2 separate regions of the Homo sapiens genome follow, and region 2 is linked to region 1. Evidence: fine-mapped expression QTL. Tissue or cell type: whole blood. Region 1 holds a variant in brackets; the other region holds the start of a gene. All regions are shown on one strand. Distances are between the middles of the regions.

What was found. PIP is the estimated chance that this variant, and not a neighbour inherited with it, causes the effect.
Region 2: TNFSF14 starts here. The variant in region 1 is the best candidate, but not a certain one, in a credible set for the expression of TNFSF14 in whole blood (TOPMed, PIP 0.53).

Annotation. Positions count from the first base shown.
Region 1 is chr19:6,875,594-6,878,355 of GRCh38, reverse strand. No RefSeq gene overlaps it. Among named protein-coding and RNA genes, the nearest start is that of ADGRE1, 11 kb to the left of the region's middle. The variant A/G (reference allele first, on the strand shown) is at 1,257.
Region 2 is chr19:6,668,952-6,671,709 of GRCh38, reverse strand. TNFSF14 (TNF superfamily member 14) reads left to right here and starts at 1,550. Exons shown (of 4, transcript NM_001376887.1): 1 at 1,550-1,859. The coding sequence starts at 1,641. RefSeq lists a silencer at 421-520 and enhancers at 1,091-1,320, 1,701-1,790, 2,691-2,758.

The DNA of each region.
Region 1 (2,762 bases):
ATGTAGCAGGGGAGTTTGAGACAGAAGAAGGATTCGACATTTGGAGGCTGGGCTAAAGAGTTGGAAGGTTTTGCAATCAAACCCAGATCCCTTCTGGGGATGGGGATGGGATGAGGCTTGCCACGGACCTGGCAGCTTGGGGAAAACACAGATTTAGTATATGATGGGTCCAGAGGTCAGAGTCCTCTCGAGTCTCATGGGACTAAAACCAAGATGCCAGCAGGGCTGCAATCCTTCCCGAGGCTCCAGGGCAGAATCCATTCCTTGTCCTTTCTGGCTTCTGGAGGCAACCCACATGCCCTGGCTCATGGTCCCTTCCTTCCTATGCAAAGCCAGCAGCTAGCAGTTTCAAATGTCTCTTGCGTACTCTAAATCTCTCGTTCTTGCTCTCTCTCTCTCTCTCATTTTCCCTCTCTCTTGCTCTCTCATTCTCTCTCTTTTTCTCTGTCTGTCTCTCTCTCAAGTTCTCTCTCTTGCTTATTCTCTCATTTTTCCCTCCCTCTTGCTCTTTCATTCTCTCTTTTTTTTTTCTCCTTTTTTTTTGAGACAGAGTCTCAGTCTGTCACCCAGGCTGGAGTGCAGTGGTACGATCTCGGCTCACTGCAACCTCCGTCTCTCGGGTTCAAGCGATTCTCCTGCTTCAGCCTCCCGAGTAGCTGGGATTACAGGCATCTGCCACCATACCTGGCTAACTTTTGTATTTTTAGTAGAGATGGGGTTTCACCATATTGACTAGACTGGCCTTAATCTCCTGACCTCAAGTGATCCGCCCGCCTCGGCCTCCCAAAGTGCTGGAATTACAGGCGCGAGCCACTGCGCCTGGCCCATTCTGTCTGTCTTGTTCACTCTCCTTATTGCTCTTGTTCTCTCTCTCTCTCTCTCGTTCTCTCTCATTCTTTCTCTCTCTCTCACTCTCTGTGTATCTCTATCTCTCCATCTCTCTCTCTCTCCCTGATCCTCCTGTCTCCTTCTCGTAAGAATTCTTGTAATGACATTAGGCAGAGGTTGCAGTGAGCTGAGATCGTGCCATTGCACTCCAGCCTGGGCAGCAGAGTAAGACTCTGTCCCCACTCCCCCCACCTCCCCCCCAAAAAAATAGCCCTTAACTGAATCCCATCTGCAAAAGTCCCTTTTGTCATAGAAGGGAACACATCCTTGGGCTTTAGGGATTAGGCTGTAGGTGCCTCGTGGAGGGAGAGGAGGCCCTTTATCCCACCTACCACAGGCAGGGTATCGGGTCCTAGTGAGACACTGAA[A/G]ACCCAAGACTCCAGACACCCTTCAAACCCACAGAGGTGACCGAAGCTATATAAAGACTGTCCTGCAGCGGCCCTGCAGAGTTGCGGGTGGGGGTGTAAGAACAGGAAGGGGAAAGATGTGGAAGAGGAAATCAACAATTCTGGCCAAGAAGCTTACAAAATCTAACCCCTAATGACTTCCCTAGCAAAGGGGAATACAAGGGACTCTCAAGATTGAAGAAATCAGCCTGGGGAGCTGCAGGAACATCACTTACCGTCACACAGAGTGCCGGGAAGGGGCAGGGAAGTTGGGGAATCCCTGCCTAACCTGTCCACGCCCTGCTTAGACTCTAAACCCTTCCATGGCTCCCTATTGCCCTCAGGATGAAGTTCAGGCTTATTAATATGGCACTCAAGGCTCTACGTAGTCTGACTCTGGTCTCCCCATCTTGTTTTATTGATCTCCACTCCCCCTAAAGCCCTAGTGATCAGCTAGACACAGTGGCTCATGCCTGTAATCCCACCACTTTGGGAAATCAAGGCAGGAGGATCGCTTGAGCCCAGGAGTTCAAGGCAACATACTGAGATCCTGAATCTACAGAAAAAAATTTTTTTTTAATTAGTTGGGCATAGTGGCTGGTGCACACCTGTGGTCCCAGCTACTCAGGAGGCCAAGGTGGGAGGACTGTTTGAGCCCAGGAGTTCAAGGCCAGCTTGAGCAACATGGAGAAACCCCATCTCTATAAAAGAAAATTTTTAATAAGCCAGGCCTAGTGGTGTATGCCTGTAGTCCCAGCTACTCGGGAGGATTGCTTGAGCCCAGGAGGTCAAGGTCACAGTGAGCCGTGATGGCACCAGTACACTCCAGCCTGGGCAACAGAGTGAGACCCTGTCTCAAAAAAACAACAACAAAAAGCCCCCCAGTGATTATAAAATACTTGAAGTCCCTGTTGTGGGTGCAGTCAACGCTCTGCTCACTGACCTTTCCCAGGCTGGTGCACCCATCCTGGGGCTGCTGTGAGTGAGTGCTGCCTACAATAGCTCATAGCTCACAGCTTCCCCCTTCTCCTCAGCTGAGCAACTGTGCAAACCCTCAGACCCAGCCCACAGCCATAACGGATGGTCACAGAGGTGCAGAAGGCCAGCCCCATGCCCCCAGGGTGAGACCAACCTGGTGGCACCAGTCACACTCCAGGGCTCCCCATGGGATCCGGCTAAGGCTGGACTCCAGCTAAGACCACTTCCTTGCTTAGCTCATTCCCTTGCTCTGTCCTGATCTTCTCCCTCAAAAACACCTGTGCACAAGAAACCTCACAGCAAGTTCTACTTCAAACTCTCTCTCTTTTTCTTTTCTTTTTTTTGAGACAGGGACTTGCTCTGTTGCCCAGGCTGGAGTGCAACGGCTCAGTCACAGCTCACTGCAGCCTCAACTGCCTGAATTCAAGCAATCCTCCCACCTCAGCCTCCTAAATAGCTGAGACCACAAGCATACCCTACCATACCCTGCTAATTTTTTTTTTTCTCTTT
Region 2 (2,758 bases), 210 kb after region 1:
AAATGGCACCACTGCACTCCAGCCTGGGTGACAAAGTGAGACTCTGCCTCAAAAAAAAAAAGAAAGAAAAAGGCTGGGTGCGGTGGCTTATGCCTGTAATCCCAGCACTTTGGGAGGCCAAGGCAGGCGGATCACGAGGTCAGGAGATTGAGACCATCCTGGCTAACACGGTGAAACCCCGTCTCTACTAAAAATACAAAAAATTAGCTGGGTGCGGTGGTGGGCGCCTGTAGTCCCAGCTACTCAGGAGGCTGAGGCAGGAGAATGGCGTGAACCTGGGAGGCGGAGCTTGCAGTGAGCCGAGATCGCACCACTGCACTCCAGCCTGGGCGACAGAGCGAGACTCCGTCTCGAAAAAAAAAAAAATCCACGCTTGAATGCATGCACACTCATACATGGACCTCCCCACACACATGAACACACCCGTGCAAGTGCGCACACACACATACACGCACCAATGCACAGGCACACACACATGCACACACCTGCACACAGCACATATATGCACACCCACTTGCACATGTGATGCATGTTCACACATACACACACGTGCACATGCATGCATGTACATGGACCACATGCACATGCACACAGATGACCATACACATATGCATGCACCTGCCCACATATGCACGCACATTTACATGCCAGCACATGTATGATACACAGGCATGCGCCTGCACATGTGTACATGATACACACTTGCATGCACACAACTGAATACACACATTCACATGCACACACTGCACACATATATGCATGCAGACAAGCACACACACAGAGCACACATCCACTCCTTTATTCCACTCTTGTGTTTTTCACTGCACTTGTCACATCAAAACACAACAGAAGGCCGGGCATGGTGCGGCTCACGTTTGTAATCCCAGCACTTTGGGAGGCTGAGGTGGGTGGATCGCTTGAGGTCAGGAGTTCGAGACCAGCCTGACCGACATGGTGAAAACCCATCTCTACTAAAAATACAAAAAGCAGCCAGGCGTGGTGGCACGCGCCTGTAATCCCCGCTACTTGGGAGGCTGAGGCAGGAGAATTGCTTGAACCCAGGAGGTGGAGGTTGTAGTAAGCTGAGATCGCGCCACTGCACTCCAGCCTGGGCAACAGAGCGAGACTCCATCTCAAAAACAAAACAAATAAACGAACAAAAAAACCCACAACGTATTATTTTCTTGTTTACGAGGTTTCTTGTCTCTCTGGCTCCACCAGAAGAGGAGCAGGGACCCTTCTTGCTGTTGTTCATTGCTGCATCCCCCACACCGAGAGCAGAGCCTGGCATGGGCAGAAAGTCCTCAGTCGATATTTGGTGGCCCCAAGCGAATGAAGCATCCAAGAAGGGAAAGCTGGGGGCTCCCCACTGCACTTGCCACCTGAGTCACATTTTCAGAAGCCTCTGGAAAGTGTGAGAGTCTGTATGAGTGAGAGTGAGACAGGGCCAAGACCGGGGGCGGCGGGTACCGGAAGAAGAGGAGGGTGAGTGGGGGAAGGGGTGGGGCTGAACCCCAGCTCTAAAGGCGGCCCACGGGTGCCTGTCCGCAGCGTGCACAGCCCAGGAGTGTTGAGCAATTTCGGTTTCCTCTGAGGTTGAAGGACCCAGGCGTGTCAGCCCTGCTCCAGACACCTTGGGCATGGAGGAGAGTGTCGTACGGCCCTCAGTGTTTGTGGTGGATGGACAGACCGACATCCCATTCACGAGGCTGGGACGAAGCCACCGGAGACAGTCGTGCAGTGTGGCCCGGGTGGGTCTGGGTCTCTTGCTGTTGCTGATGGGGGCCGGGCTGGCCGTCCAAGGCTGGTTCCTCCTGCAGCTGCACTGGCGTCTAGGAGAGATGGTCACCCGCCTGCCTGTGAGTGGGACCGGGGGGCTGAGAGCAGGTGGAGGTGAGGGGGGCTCCCCTGTGTCATTGTGGGTCACTGTGTGTCTGTGTGTGTGTGTGTGTGTGTGTGTGTGTGTGTGTGTAGGACAGGGCACAGGCTGAGAGCAGCTGGCTTGACTGGTTGCTGCTCCCAGCCTTGGGCAAGTGAATTCACCTCTCTGAACCTCAGTGTCTTCATCTACAAAATAAGGGCAGTCTCTTCATAGGGGACGAAGTATGCTATGGCATGTGTAGTACCAGACGATGCCAGCTCCACCCGTCGGAACTGACACCCCAACACTGCCATGCACACCCCTGTGCACACACGCATGCATTTTCTCTGTACTTTTTTATTTTTGAGACGGAGTTTCACTCTCGTTGCCCAGGCTGGAGTGCAATGGCATGATCTCTGCTCACCGCAACCTCTGCCTCCCGGGTTCAAGTGATTCTCCTGCCTCAGCCTCCCGAGTAGCTGGGATTACAGGCATGCGCCACCACGCCTGGCCAATTTTGTATTTTTAGTAGAGATGGGGCTTCTCTATGTTTGTCAGGCTGGTCTCAAACTCCCGACCTCAGGAGATCCACCCGCCTCAGCCTCCCAAAGTGCTGGGATTACAGGTGTGAGCCACTGCGCCTGGCCTTCTCTGGTACTCTTATTACTGTTACTGCGATTGTCATTAATTCTCTGACCATTTCCATCTGTGGAAATTTCTCGGTCTGCTTCCAGCTGGCTGTGGATGTGTCCGCCTGTCTGTGTGCCTCACCTGGGGGTCTATGTGTGCCCAACACCATACCCCTGTGGGCTTGGCCCCTTTTGTGTCCTGGGTCTGGATCCGGTGGCCACACATTCGTGTCCATATACCCATGTGGACGTATGTGCGTGTACCCAC